Linked DNA regions of Homo sapiens. The protein of the gene in region 1 purifies or fractionates together with the protein of each later gene. This does not show direct contact. Each region holds a gene or a part of one and is shown on either strand. Other genes may lie near its edges.

Region 1 (4,300 bases):
CATCTTCAGGCTGTGTGTAGAGCAGCCCCCTCATGGTCCTGGGACCCAGAAATCATCTGCACCCCCAGCAGGCTCTGCACCCCCGGCAGGATCTGCACCCCCGGCAGGCTCCCCTAAGGGCCCCCAGAAGGATACCACTGCGGGTGGGCCCAGCCAGAGGAGCACCATGAGATCCGCTTGGTGGGGTGAGGCCGGCAGGGGAAGCACCCTGACCCCAGGACACTGGGCTCAATGCCCGCCCTGCCCCGTCCCACCCTGTGTATGGCGGGACAGAGTCCTTGGGCCTCAGGCACCCAGCTCCCCACCCCAGCCCCACCCACAATGCTCAGGGTCAGGCTGGCTGGACCGGGCGGGAGGTGGCATCTGGACTCCCCCTTCAGAAGGCAAAGCTGCCCTGAGATCTGCCTTCCCCTTCCCCCAGACTTCCTGCCATCACCACCACGGTAGAGATAAGGCCTCTAGGCTCAAAGGCCAGAGAGGGAGCCCACAGAGAGGGCAGGGCTGGGAGCCACAGCCTCCCTGCCCCCGGGGCTAGAGCTGGGGTCTTGCCCCAATCTTATCCTGACCCAAGCTCGGCCAGGTGGCTGCCAGGGCCCAGCTCCGTCTTCCTGTTTGTCTGTGTTGGAGCTTCCTGGGGCTGTCTCCGGCCTAAGGGAGCATGATGCAGCAGGCACCTTTTCAGTTTCTTTGACTCCATCGCAGTCCCCAACAGGGACCACAGCCCAGGACCCAGGAGGAGGGAGGTCCATGTCCCCACCCCCAACAGGGGCCACCGAGGGTGTCTGGGCAGCCTCTGTTGGGAGGGGCAGAGGCAGGGACCTGGGAGCTCTCAGGCTCTGGGGGCATCTGTGCACCTCTGCCCTGTGTCCCCCAGCTTGGAGGCAGCCCCCAGATGGACAGCCAGAAGGGGACACCCCAGCCCTGCCCCACAGCTTGGGGGGCAGCAGGCAGAGGACAGAAGCCCACCCAGGCTGGCCTGGCGTGGTGAGCCACGCCGGTAATCCCAGCACTTTGGGAGGCCAAGGCGGGCGAATCACCTGAGGTTGGGAGTTCAAGACCAGCCTGACCAACATGGAGAAACACTGTCTCTACTAAAAATACAAAAGTAACCGGGCGTGGTGGCGCTGCCTGTAATCCCAGCTACTCGGGAGGCTGAGGCAGGAGAAGCACTTGAACCCGGGAGGCGGAGGTTGCCGTGAGCCAAGATCACGCCATTGCACTCCAGCCTGGGCAGCAAGAGCAAAACTCCAACTCGAAAAAAAAAAGACCACCGAGGCTGCCTGTCCAGGGGAAGGGGCCCAGCCCTCGACCCCCACAGGCAGTGGCTCCAGGCTGTTGGGGAGGATCTGCCACTGGAATGGTTAACCCAGGCATCTCCAGCAGCCAATCACAGAGCTCTGCAGGAATACCTGGGAGAGGTCCTCATGCAGCCCGGGCGGGTCCTAGCCCAGCCCCAGTCTGGCCCTGGACAACCCCAGCAAAGCCGCCCTCAGCCAGCCCAGAAGCACTGGGCCTTGGCCACAGCAACACCCACTGAGCACGCTGGGAGCTGAGTATGGCGTCCCTGGTCTCGCTGGAGCTGGGGCTGCTTCTGGCTGTGCTGGTGGTGACGGCGACGGCGTCCCCGCCTGCTGGTCTGCTGAGCCTGCTCACCTCTGGCCAGGGCGCTCTGGATCAAGAGGCTCTGGGCGGCCTGTTAAATACGCTGGCGGACCGTGTGCACTGCGCCAACGGGCCGTGTGGAAAGGTAACAGCCCCACCCGACGGGTCCCCCAGCCCTGGCCTCTTCCCGCCAGCTCCGCCCTGCCAGCCGGCAGCAAAGGGCCCTGGGCAAACTCCAGGAGGCGGAGGAGGCTAGTGGCAGTACCTGGGCACCCTGACCCTCCCCACAGGCCAGAGCCCACCCTCCTGCTCATGAGGGCAGACAGGCCTTTCCAGGGACACAGTCCCTCTTCTCCCCAGGACCCCAGGGCCAACTCCCCCTGCCGGCCCTCTGCCATCAAATTGGCAGTGGCTCCAGGGGAGTCCCCTGGGGATGGGGGACCACTGTTGGGGACCCCTCTGCGTGCACCCCTGTAGTTGGGGAAGCAGGACAGGGGCCTGGGGAGACGGAAGGGCGCCAGGGGTTGAGAGAGGATGGTGGACGTTGTTGGACTTGAAAGGGAAACAGGCCCTCGGGGAAGCCCCTGGCCAGGCCTGCCTCTCCCCTCCCTGGTGGGCCCAGCGCCCCTGCTCACTTGTCTCTGCCCACAGTGCCTGTCTGTGGAGGACGCCCTGGGCCTGGGCGAGCCTGAGGGGTCAGGGCTGCCCCCGGGCCCGGTCCTGGAGGCCAGGTACGTCGCCCGCCTCAGTGCCGCCGCCGTCCTGTACCTCAGCAACCCCGAGGGCACCTGTGAGGACGCTCGGGCTGGCCTCTGGGCCTCTCATGCAGACCACCTCCTGGCCCTGCTCGAGAGCCCCAAGGCCCTGACCCCGGGCCTGAGCTGGCTGCTGCAGAGGATGCAGGCCCGGGCTGCCGGCCAGACCCCCAAGATGGTGAGGGAGAGTCCAGGCAGACCAGGGGAGTGGGTGAGGAGGGTCCCACGGCCCATGGGACCCGGCCTGGCTGCAAAGCCTTCGGGGAGCCTGGGGGCCTGGGGAGACGCCCAGGAGTCGGCCTGCGGCTGGGGATTCACAACGTGGGGCTCACTACTGGGCAGTTGGGAGCCTGTAGGAGCCCCGGGAGGGACCTCATGAGGGAGGAACCCAGAGGCCTGAGTGGGAGCCTGAAGCAGCTGGGCCCGGCAGGGAGGGCTGTGGCTCCAGGGAGGGGCGGGGCTGGTGGGGGCAGATCCTGTAGTTGGGGTGGGAGATGCATCCAGGGGCAGCGGGGTGGATGGCAGAAGGTCACACCAAAGGCTGAGGCGGAGGCCCCCTCTTCCCCAGGCCTGCGTAGATATCCCTCAGCTGCTGGAGGAGGCGGTGGGGGCGGGGGCTCCGGGCAGTGCTGGCGGCGTCCTGGCTGCCCTGCTGGACCATGTCAGGAGCGGGTCTTGCTTCCACGCCTTGCCGAGCCCTCAGTACTTCGTGGACTTTGTGTTCCAGCAGCACAGCAGCGAGGTCCCTATGACGCTGGCCGGTGAGGCCTGGGCTGGGCTGTGGAGGGGGGCACCCCCGAGTCCCCAGCCTCCACGTCCCTGGGGGGCAGGGCCGGAGCCCACACAGACTCGCGGTGCCAACTCTTCTCCCTGCCAGAGCTGTCAGCCTTGATGCAGCGCCTGGGGGTGGGCAGGGAGGCCCACAGTGACCACAGTCATCGGCACAGGGGAGCCAGCAGCCGGGACCCTGTGCCCCTCATCAGCTCCAGCAACAGCTCCAGTGTGTGGGACACGGTGAGCTGCGCCCTGGGGTAAGATGGGGCCTCACCGGGGTCTGCTTGGGCCCCTGAGCCTGTCCTGCCACCCCCCAGGTATGCCTGAGTGCCAGGGACGTGATGGCTGCATATGGACTGTCGGAACAGGCTGGGGTGACCCCGGAGGCCTGGGCCCAACTGAGCCCTGCCCTGCTCCAACAGCAGCTGAGTGGAGCCTGCACCTCCCAGTCCAGGCCCCCCGTCCAGGACCAGCTCAGCCAGTCAGAGAGTGAGTGCCCACGCCGACATTGTGCTGGCAGCACAGAGGTGGAGCCCGTGTAGGAAGGAAGGAGTGGCTGCCCAGGATGAGGGATGGAGAGAGTGAGCAGGGGCTGGAAGTAGAAACAACAGACACAGGGGAAGGTGGCGTCGCCAGGAGAGTGGGGCTTTGAGGCAGGAGGGTCAGCCTGAGTGAGGGCCTGGCCCACACTGACGGCCTGCAGCTCTGGTGAGCAGCGCCCGGGAAGCAGGGGCTGAGTCTGGAAGAAAAGCTCTCACAGCCGCCTCACCCGCCCCCAGGGTATCTGTACGGCTCCCTGGCCACGCTGCTCATCTGCCTCTGCGCGGTCTTTGGCCTCCTGCTGCTGACCTGCACTGGCTGCAGGGGGGTCACCCACTACATCCTGCAGACCTTCCTGAGCCTGGCAGTGGGTGCAGTCACTGGGGACGCTGTCCTGCATCTGACGCCCAAGGTCTGCCCCCACAAACCCGCGACCCTGGCCCTCCGTTCCCCACCATGGACTCCCAGGCCGTGCCCTCCCAGGGACCTTACCCACCCCACCTCCTGACCCCTCTCCCTGGGTCTTGGTGGGAGGCGCCCTGGGACCTCCCCCCCAGCCCAGCGCCCCTACTCCCCAGGTGCTGGGGCTGCATACACACAGCGAAGAGGGCCTCAGCCCACAGCCCACC
Region 2 (3,500 bases), on another chromosome or scaffold:
ATATGTCTAGAATTTGTTTTGAGATAATCTAGAGGGGTTGGGAGAAAATGGGGGTATAGATTAAATATGCATTAATAATTGTTGAAGCTACACAGTAATTACTTTGGCATTGACTATATTGTCATGTTTGCCTTTCCATGTGTTTGAAATTTTCCATGGTAAGAGGTTAGAAGTATTTTAGCTGTAGATAAAAGACCAATAGTGTTAGAAAATACTGTCCTGTCTTACCTTCCTTTAATCCCGATTTTACAAATACACTGTGCTTTTAAAAGGTGGAATTATCTGTCCATACCTTGTACTCATAGCCATACCAAGGGCTGCAGTGATTTTGTTTCTCTAAAACCACAATGAAAAATGATTTCCTTCCTTTGTACCTTCTAGAAAAACAGCATTCCCCACCCTTTGATTTTGTTAGGATGTAAACATGACTTTGGGATTGGTCAATCATTTCTTGGCGCATTACTGTGCCTTTTGTATGTGGTTCAGTGTGAATCAGTATATGCCTCTTTGTTTTCCAGGTCCTCGTTCACCTGGGACTCCTGACCAAGGAATCTGGATTTAAGATTGCAGAGACAGCTTTCAGTGGTGGCCCTCTTGGTGAATTAGTTCAATGGAGTGATTTAATTACATCTCTGTACTTACTGGGCCATGACATTAGGATTTCAGCTTCACTGGCTGAGCTCAAGGAGTAAGGAGATTACTTTTCAATTTTAAAATCAGAATACAAAAAAGAAATTGTAAACTCTTAAAGTATTACCTCTATTAGTGTATAATTTTTTGTCGAGGAAAATGAAAGTGATAATTCACTAAACAGGAGATAAGAAGATTATTTTCAGGAGCTAAATACATACACTGTGAAAAGGATAATATGTTTTCATTGTCGCTGAAGGCTCCAGAGGCTTCATAAATGAATGCCAGAAAATTCAAACTAAGGAGCTTATTCTTTGCTATTACAGGTGCTTCCAACATCTGGAGCACAAAACATTATTGACTTTCCTAATTCCCTGTCTCTTGCTGAAATTCATACCACTGCCTACTCAACATCAATCTTGCTAAATCTTGAAACAGGGCAGGTTCCTGTTTGTAATTCAATTTGGATAGAATAAATTTCCTGAAAGCCCTGAGCTGATCCTTTTTCAATTAGCCAACTTTCAGCTGAGTCTGTTAACTCTACTTGGGTTTTTCATTTCACTGAAATTTGCTTCTAGCTCCAGCCCTCCTGTAATCCCTTCTATATTGGCATAGCTGGCTGAGCAGGGACGCTTCCATCCCCTGCAGTCACTTAGGATTACTGCCCATGGAGACTTCCCACCCAACAGTCAAGTTGCCATGTTGCTATATGTCGTATATTTCCAGAAGGAATACCTTGAATGAACATTCTAGAGCTCATTGAGATGAGAGACATGTTAAAACAATATATGGTGGCTCCCAGCACTTCGGGAGGCCAAGGTAGGTAGATCACTTGAGGCCAGGGGTTCAAGAACAACCTGGCCAACATGGTGAGACCCTGTCTGTACTAAAAATACAAGAATTAACCGGGTGTGGTGGCCCATGCCTGTAGTCCCATCTACTCGAGAGGCAGAGGCTGCAGTGAGCCGAGATCATGCCACTGCACTCCAGCCTGAGTGACAGAGCAAGTCTCTGTCTTAAAAAAAAAAAAAAAAAATTGGATACACAACCTACAAAGTGGCTGCATTTATACAGTTAGCAGTCACTCATCTGGTGTCTTCTGTAGGCTAGTTTTGGTGTCGGGCATACAGAGATGGCCAGCTTGTGGTCAAAGATCTTGCTGCCAATCTTTTGATAATTACAACTAATATATTAAAAATAATTACACAAATTCCAATTCTATTGGTGCTAATTGAGGTGTACGTGGATGCTAGAATGTAAGCACTGGGATTGCAGAAAACTGAGTATCGTTTGTCACTGTGTAGTGGGCACCTAGATAGTGCCTAGCAAGTAATGAGTACTCACATAACTATTTATAGAATGAATGAGTGAAGGAATAAATAGGTGAATGAATGAGTGGGTAGGTAAATAAATGGAGTGCTGTGGTAGAACCAGGGACAAGTACTGCCTGGGGAGGTCAGGAAAGACATGTTAGGGATTTATCAGTCAGAGACTGAATTTGATGGTCAAGGGAAAATTTGTTCAGTATGTCCTCACTTAACATCGTTGATAGGTTCTTGGAAACTAGGACTATAAATGAAATTATGTAAAATGAAACCAATTTTTTTCATCAACATTATAACCAGTGATTTGAAGGAAATGACTTTATTGGAGGGCCTGCTATCTGTTGTTTTGTTTAAAGTCCCAGTTTTCAGGAACCTATTGATGATGTTAAGTGAGGACTTAATTCTAGTAGTCTTTATGCACACTGGGGTCAGGGCTAGATGTGTTTTGTTTAAGAAGATAATTGTGGAAGCAGTATAGAGCAGTGGTCTTTAAATATATCTGTACGTTAGAACCACCTGGAGATCTTTGTATTTATTTCTTAATTTTGGGGGATCTTTTAAAAATCCCATAGACCATGCCATAGGCTAATTAGATCACAACCCTTGGGGGTAGGACACAGCCATAAGTATTTTGTGATGCCTCCAGGTAATTTCATTATACAGACAAGTTTGGGAAACACTGAACATGGGGTGGACCAGAGATCAGCAAACTATGGCTCAGCAGGCCAAATCAGCCCTCTGTCTTTTTTTGTAAATACAGTTTCATGGGAACACAGCCATGCCTATTGTTTACGTATCATATATAGCTGTCTTCATTCCACAACGGGAGAATGGGCCAGTTGTGACTGAAAATGTATGGCCTGCAAAGATGAAGATAATCACTGTCTGGCCCTTAACAGAAAGGGTTTTCTGACTCTTGGGAGGAAACTGGTTCTGCAGAACCTAGTTCTTTCATAAACAGGGGAGAGGAAGAAGGGTGGCTGATGTGGTGGTAGTACAGAGCTGTCAAGCAGAGTCCTGTTTGTGACTCTCGTCCTTTGAAGCAGGATATCCATAATTTGGTGAAGGATTATCATGGGGTGTTGCAGATAAGCAACAGTGGTGACTGATTAGTGAGTGGATGGCAGTAGGGTTAGCACTGACTCGTTCCTACACATGAAGTTGGCCTACCAATCAAGTACATCGTCACGCTCTGAGCGCAAGTATGGTTTTGTGTGGATGGATGCATGGGTGGGGGAAAGGGTGATTAAAAAAAACTGTAAACCATAGTGCTAGTTCTGTAATATGGTCAAGCGAGGAGGAAAAATTTGACATAAGAGAAAAAGTTAAGGAACAGTATGAGGCAGGTAGAAAGAAGTTAATACTATAGAGGCTAGAAATTGAAGACATTTAGAAAAAGGGGAGGGGAAGGTTAGTAAGGGTGCTAAGCGGTAAGAACAGGCTCTGGGGGAGAAAACTAAGTTATTGAGTATCTAGTATTCATTAGGCACTTTCTTTTCAATATCTCATTGTGAAGAACCCCTGAGAGACTGGTATCCAATGTTC
Region 3 (3,500 bases), on another chromosome or scaffold:
TTGAGACGGAGTCTCGCTCTGTCGCCCAGGCCGGACTGCGGACTGCAGTGGCGCAATCTCGGCTCACTGCAAGCTCCGCTTCCCGGGTTCACGCCATTCTCCTGCCTCAGCCTCCCGAGTAGCTGGGACTACAGGCGCCCGCCACCGCGCCCGGCTAATTTTTTGTATTTTTAGTAGAGACGGGGTTTCACCTTGTTAGCCAGGATGGTCTCGATCTCCTGACCTCATGATCCACCCGCCTCGGCCTCCCAAAGTGCTGGGATTACAGGCGTGAGCCACCGCGCCCGGCCTTTTAACGTAATTTTTATCAGTGGACACCTTACTGAATTATAGTACATTTCAGTTTTTTTAAAAAGCTGCTTCTGTTTTCCATGTATGCAATTATATAATCCGACAGTAATTTTTGTGGCTGTCTTTTTAGTATCTATATCTGTTCTTTAATTTTATTTTTCTAATTAATTCCAAGGCTAGGACTTCAGAACAATGTTAAGTAGTAGTGTGATTGTAGGCATTATTCCTACCACTGACGTTACAAGCAGTGCTCCTAGCTTTTCACCAGTTCTAGTGAATTTGTTTAACTAAATTGGAAATGGAAATTAAATGTCATTTTAAACTTTTCAAAATACATATAGATTCTTATATAGTTTTTCTCATTTGAGTTAAATTAAATTAGTAAGTTTCCTGGTATTTGATAAACCATGTATTCCTGGAATGAACTATTTCATTGTTATCACATACTGTTTATATAGCTTTGCATTCTACTAGCTGCAATTTTAGATTTTGACATCAATTTTCATGTCTTGCCTGGATCTTTACAAGAGCAACTTACATTGCTCCTTTAAAAAATGTACTGTTGCTCCCCTCCAGTTTATTTACATTTTCCAACTTCTTCAGTTAGATGCTTAATTTACATGTTTGTGTTCTTTTAATGGCTGCCTATAGAAGCACCTTTATAAATTCAGAGTATTGTAATTCTTTTTCCGGTTGATTAGAACCAATTGTCCTCTAGATATATGTACAGTGTGTCAGTGAATAGGATTTATGTGCACAAAACACATCATCACTACATAAAACATTCCGAGTATCACATAACTGTGTAGCCATGACCCATCCTTCTCTTCCTGGTGTTTTGGTGCGGCCACCAAAATCTGATAGGTATGCCAGTTATTGGAGTAGGTGCAGTTATAGCAAGGCATGATACTGACTTACTTCATTGTATTTCCTTCTGCTTAATCTTCTCTAGACATGCTGTGCAACTTAACGTCACTGCCACCCGGCAGCTCTTGCTTATGGCTAGTCAGATGCCAAAGCTGGAAGCCTTTATACATATCTCTACTGCCTATTCAAATTGTAACCTGAAGCACATCGATGAAGTTATCTATCCGTGCCCTGTGGAGCCAAAAAAAATCATTGATTCCCTTGAGTAAGTTGGTCTAATAAAAGGATCAAGGGGCGGGTAGAATAAGTTCCTTTGTTCTCTTTGATTCTTTGTAGCTATTAATGAGATGATGAAGTCAAACACTTTTGAAGCAAAATGTTTTGAAACGGTGCTAGCCTTAGCTACCTTGTCCCTGCTAGTTCTGGTGGGGAATATACTGCTAAAAGAGAAGGGGGATAGAAAATTCTTAAACATTTTGTGGAATTGCGTAGGATTGCATGAGGTACTTGGGAATACTATACATAGAAGTTGTTTCTCACTTCTTAATGAACTTAGCATTGTCACTGGATAAAGCAAGTATAATGTATAGTATAAAAGTTCAGAAGAAAAATGTCTGATTCAGACTGACGTGAGTTTGGCATAGCTCCACCAGTAACTACCTGTGTGACTGAGCAAATTCCTTGCCCTCTCTGAGCCCCAAGTCCTTCATTTGTAAAATGGGCCCATTTTATAGTTGTGAGGTTGAAAAAAGTTATATAAAACACTTATTGCAGTGCTAGGGAGTGTTTAACAGCACTTAATCAAATAATTCATAAAAAAGAACTAGAGGCTGGGGGTGGTGGCTCACGCCTGTAATCCCAGCACTTTGGGAGGCTGAGGCGGGTGGATCACCTGAGTCCAAGAGTTCAAGACCAGCCTAAAATACAAAAATTAGCTGGATGTGGTGGCAGGCGCCTGTAATCCCAGGTACTTGGGAGGCTGAGGCAGGAGAATCACTTGAACCTGGGGAGAATCGCTTGAACCTGGGAGGCAGAGGTTGCAATGAGCCGAGATTGTGCCGTTGCACTCCAGCCTGGGCAACAAGAGTGAAACTCCGTCTCAAAAAAAAAAAAAAAAAAAAGAACTAATGAAGAATAAGAATTGCTCCAAGATCTGGCAGAAGGTGACAGTCTCTTGACTTATTTGGCTGAGACACACTTTCTTTACTGTCCTAGGATGCAAGAGAAATAATGTCTAGGATTTTTCTCTTCTTGCCAATGAGCAGAAACCACTTTCATCTTAAAACACAGCTCAGGTCTTAGAATAAGTTTGTTTTCTGCTTCTTTATTCTTCTGCTCCATTTTACTAAGTTTACCTTGTTTTTTTTTTTTGTAAAAAACTATATAAAAAGTATTATAGCAGAAAAATGGACTATTTCACAATGAATTTGTCACATTATAATTTTATATAATACTGTATTTATATTTAATATATACTCTTTAAAAAGTTTTAGCTAAATCAAGAGTTCATTACCTTCAGGGCAAACATTTTTATCTCCTCCAGCTCTGAGAATAGATATTTTTGTCTGTCATGTAAAAATATCCAGGACAAAGAAGAATGAAAGTCATCTAAAGGATCTGGAGGTTAAAGTTGCTAATAAATGGAGGTTTGCTAAATTGGTACAGAGAAAAATTTTAGAGTGCAGAGTTCATCAGGATAGTGGGAGAAAAAGCAGGTGTATTCTGAGGCCCAAAGTCTAGACAATAAAGTATGTTTAAAGCCTCAGAGCATTTTCAGGATGGAATTGGTTTCTGTCAGTTACCCTCTTATGGTGTTGTCTCTTGGTAAATGTGATGTTTTCATATTTGATATGTCCAGGAGAGGGGCAGACCCCTTTTGATTCCAGATTGTTTCCTGGGACTTTCTCCACTGCTGATCTCTCTAACACCTGACAGGTCATAGTGCAATTTGAGGTAGCAAAAGAGCCTGAGAGTTCATCAGAGAAAAGAAGTAAGAGGCCAGGTGTGTTGGCTTATGCCTGTAATCCCAGCACTTTGGGAGGCCGAGGTGGGTGGATCACCCGAGGTCAGGAGTTCGAGACCAGCCTGACCAACATGGTGAAACCCTGTCTCTACTAAATACAAAAAATTAGCTAGGTGTGGTGGCACATGCCTGTAATCTCAGCTACTTGGGAGGCTGAGGCAGTAGAATTGCTTGAATCCAGGAGGTGGAGGTTGCAGTGAGCTGAGATTGCACCATTGCACCCCAGCCTGGTCAACAAGAGCAAAACTTTGTCTCAAAAAAAAAAAAAAAAAAAAAAGAAAGAAAAAGAAAAGAAAAGAAGTAAGAGTTCACCCATAGT
Region 4 (3,500 bases), on another chromosome or scaffold:
AGAAGATATGGGGCAGTAAATTTTCAGGTCTTAAATTGTACCAGGAGGAGTCTTGTGCTGCCAGAGGGCATGACTTAGTAGTCTAATTAAGTGTGCAATGCCTGGCCTCCCAAGTCCTTAGTTAACATCTCTAGTAGCCCAGGGGCTGGGAAAGAAAATGACGCATGGTCCTCTGGCCAGCCCTGCATTGACTGTCTTACTCATGTAAATGAGGGGGCATCCTGGTGCAGATAACGGCTTTTATTTCTCTTTGGCTTCGGGTGTGTCATAGTTGGGGGTGTTTTATTACATCCATTTATTGGATTCATCCACCAAATATCTTTGCTTCCCAATTGTTTTGTAAAAACAGATTCATAGTAAGTTTAATCTGCCTTCTATCATAAAAACTGTAGTTGATGATGAGAGGAAGTGGCCCAGAAACACAGGCAGCCAGAGGGGAAACTGGAATTTGAAGACTTAAAACAAAAACAGGAAAAAATAACTTTCTGTAAGACTTCTCAGTGCTGTTAGTTTTGTCTTTTAATTAGAAAAAAGTTCCATGGTTTCTATTTCTTGGTCCTTCACATCTCTAAATGAATCAGACCCACAAGTGAATGGCACATTTGTTCCCTGGCCTTCTCTGATCTGGACACACTCAGGCTCCACTTGAGTGAGCCCAGACAGGTACCCTCCAGGTCCTAGCTACAGATGCGCTCCGTGGGCAGACGGCATTCAGCACCTGCCAGCGAGGGCTTCAGACGCAGATATCCCTATTTGTAACCATTCAGACCTTCATCAGAGCATCAGAAAGCAGGGGCTGGGCCATCTCAATGCAGGCTTTGTGGAGCTAAGATTTCATGGGGCACCCTTGGCCTTTCTGGAGGGTGGACACAGGAACAAGCAGGTGGGGACGTGTTTCTTGGCTTTGGTGAGGCTCTTGCTGAAAGTCTTATTCTTTGCATGGCTCCAGGCTTACCGAGATCACAGACGGGCATTTGAATTTCAGATTCATGTTCTTTCCCTTTTCGGTCGTTGAAGACGGTGACACTTTGTGTTTTTCTTTCTGCCTTTGTGCTGCTGAAAACGTGGGGACAGGCTGGGAGTGGGTGTGTTGTCTTAATCAGGCCGTCTCGTTGTCTGGTACCGTCTGTCCTCCTGTTTCCTTTAGGTGGTAGCAGCCTCTGCTGAGTGGTTTGTGTGAGTTCGCACTGAATCCTACCACAATCCTTACTCAGATGAGGGCTCTGAGATTCCACCTAACGGGAGACGAGATGGCAGCTGCTGACATTCTGCCCTGTCTGCAAGCTCTCCTAGCTCTTCCAGCTCTCCCATCTCTGCAAACTCCGACAGCAGTTGCTCTTCCTCTGAGGAAGCTGAGCGACTGCATCATCCCCCGACCACGTCGCCTCTGCTCAGCCCTCTTAATGGCCGTCATTCCAAGGGAAAGGCAGGAGCCAGGAGCCTCTGGGATGCAGCCCCTTGGTTACAGTGTCTGCTTTCAGCTTTGCCTCTGCTTCTCCAGGGTCTTTCTCAGGCAGTTAACCCAATATTTATCAACTCTCTCCCTAGGCCCAGCACTTGGCAGAATTTTTTTCTATTTTGTAAAAGTATGAGATATTCCTTGCTGTTTAGTATTTGACAGTGTGGCTGGAGAAGTAAAGATGGACAGACGGACCCCTCCCACCCACCCCTCCTTGCTGACCACTTGTCCCGTGCCTTTCCAGTTCTGTCAGGCCAAGCAGAAGGCAGCCTTGCTGGAGCTGCTGCATGAACTCTACAATTTCCTGGCCATCCAAGCTGGTGAGTAAGTCACGTAAGTCCTGAGATTCCTCTTGTGAGAGCTATGGGCGGCTGACCCGGTTCATCAGGCTTAGTTACACTGCTGCTGGCCAGCGAGACACTCCCTGGTTGTCTCTCAGAAGGCATATTCAGAAGCCGAGTCTCACCTTCTCGCCTCCTCACTCAGGCACATCTTTTATAAGCCTTGTGTTTGAACAAAACATATTTGATTCTTGCTCCTCTTTAAGGGAGGTCCTGGCATGTGAACAGGCCTTCCTGCAGCTGTTCTTCCTTCTTGGGGATGCCCACTACCTAATGCTTTGGGGGTCTCTGTTGGCATGGGAAGGGGCCAAGCCCCAGGTGTTGTCAGGATCTGTGTCCTTCACCCTAGAGGGACCCTCTGAACCAGGTGGTTGGCTGGGCCCGGGAGAGGCCTCTTGCCTGTGCAAGTAGCAGATAGTCTGTGTAGTGGGCCCTGGTGTCACATCTGGTCCTGATCACCATGTGGCTGTGGGACCTCGGACAAAGTCCCTGATCCTCTCAGGGTCTTCATCTCCCTGTCTGACCAAGGGCTCTTGGGTCTGTCTGTTCTCTACAAATGAGAGTCAAGTGCTGTCCTCTAAAGGAGGGCATTCTCAGCACCTCTGTGAAATGCCCCTGAAAATGCATCCAGAAGATGCATCCCCTACTGTTTTATTTGGTGAAGTTATTCCTTGAGGCCAGAGATACCACCTGCATTATTATGTCCTGCCCGACGCCTGGCATCCAGGAGGCTCTCAAAATCACTTGCAGTTGACATAGGTGAATATCAGCATGTGCGCCTTGTGTTAAATGCGCTGGACACAAGAACCAGACAGAGCAGTTCTATCTTAAGGGATATTCAAGAGGCGCCTCTTACCTGTGGGGTCAGAGGACAGGTCTTAGGATTGTGAGGTCAACCCTTGTCTAAGGTTTCACTGGGAAATTAGGGTCGGGTGGACTTCTCCTGGGCCCTCAGTCCTCAGGGTCAATCTCATGAGCATCAGCTCTTCTGCCTCCTCCCTCTTGAAAGTGAGAGATGAGATGGTAGGGGAGGCATCCATGAGCACTTGGAGGAGAAACAGGTACTGGGGCTCCTGCTCACAGCATCATAGGAATTCCTCTGTACGGCCCAGGTGCTTGGGATGTCAATTCTGACCTAAGAGAGTGTTCCAAACCTTTGTGTCTCAAATGTGGTCCAAGGACCCATAGCATCTGCATCACGTGGGAGCTCACTAGAAATTCAGAATCTCAGGTCTCATGCCAAACCCAGTGAATCAGAGTCTGTATCTTAAGATCCCCAGGGGATTTGAGTGCACCCTAAAGTTGAGAAGCACTGCTCGAAATTGGGTCCTAGTAGATATTTCTCCTCCATCCTACCCTCCATATGTGGTCTTGCCTTATGCCCTCAAGGGCCCTGGCACCTGTTGCCCTCCGACAAGCCTGGGGGGCCGCCTTGAAGGTACATATCTCATTGAGACAGGAGTGTGCCTCACAGAGGCTCCCTAGTAGTCCTCAACCCCTTCCATGCCTCTCCTGTTAGGGATCCGCTGTGGGCTGGGCACTGTGCAGGCCCTTGCAGTGAGATGACTCAGCTCCAGGTCCTGCCTGCAGGGCCCAACCCCGGCTTGGGGTCTACTGGAAGAGACAGGCCACCTACCTCCCTGACCACTGGGTGATATAAAATGTGATTAGACAAGAACCAAGAGGCCAGAAGTTCTGGG

Evidence for each region. The genes of interacting proteins can lie anywhere in the genome.
Region 2: the proteins of SLC39A4 (region 1) and MGAT5 purify together in Homo sapiens (affinity purification with mass spectrometry; 4 studies listed by BioGRID and IntAct, with this or other methods). This does not show direct contact.
Region 3: the proteins of SLC39A4 (region 1) and FAR2 purify together in Homo sapiens (affinity purification with mass spectrometry; 4 studies listed by BioGRID and IntAct, with this or other methods). This does not show direct contact.
Region 4: the proteins of SLC39A4 (region 1) and LEMD2 purify together in Homo sapiens (affinity purification with mass spectrometry; 5 studies listed by BioGRID and IntAct, with this or other methods). This does not show direct contact.

The regions. Positions count from the first base shown.
Region 1 is NC_000008.11:144,414,045-144,418,344, reverse strand, and holds the start of SLC39A4 (zinc transporter ZIP4 isoform 2 precursor), read left to right. Parts: upstream 1-1,500; 5' UTR 1,501-1,555; coding exon 1,556-1,747; exon of another isoform or gene 1,748-2,136; coding exon of another isoform or gene 2,137-2,253; coding exon 2,254-2,535; exon of another isoform or gene 2,536-2,925; coding exon 2,926-3,118; exon of another isoform or gene 3,119-3,234; coding exon 3,235-3,371; exon of another isoform or gene 3,372-3,448; coding exon 3,449-3,620; exon of another isoform or gene 3,621-3,723; intron 3,724-3,910; coding exon 3,911-4,083; intron 4,084-4,249; coding exon 4,250-4,300. UniProt on the Homo sapiens protein: Selective transporter that mediates the uptake of Zn(2+). Plays an essential role for dietary zinc uptake from small intestine. The Zn(2+) uniporter activity is regulated by zinc availability.
Region 2 is NC_000002.12:134,341,072-134,344,571, forward strand, and holds part of MGAT5 (alpha-1,6-mannosylglycoprotein 6-beta-N-acetylglucosaminyltransferase A), read left to right. Parts: intron 1-518; coding exon 519-688; intron 689-3,500. UniProt on the Homo sapiens protein: Catalyzes the addition of N-acetylglucosamine (GlcNAc) in beta 1-6 linkage to the alpha-linked mannose of biantennary N-linked oligosaccharides.
Region 3 is NC_000012.12:29,295,778-29,299,277, forward strand, and holds part of FAR2 (fatty acyl-CoA reductase 2), read left to right. Parts: intron 1-1,243; coding exon 1,244-1,423; intron 1,424-3,500. UniProt on the Homo sapiens protein: Catalyzes the reduction of saturated but not unsaturated C16 or C18 fatty acyl-CoA to fatty alcohols (FAls). A lower activity can be observed with shorter fatty acyl-CoA substrates.
Region 4 is NC_000006.12:33,782,631-33,786,130, reverse strand, and holds part of LEMD2 (LEM domain-containing protein 2), read left to right. Parts: intron 1-1,611; coding exon of another isoform or gene 1,612-1,638; exon of another isoform or gene 1,639-1,670; intron 1,671-1,703; coding exon 1,704-1,779; intron 1,780-3,500. UniProt on the Homo sapiens protein: Nuclear lamina-associated inner nuclear membrane protein that is involved in nuclear structure organization, maintenance of nuclear envelope (NE) integrity and NE reformation after mitosis.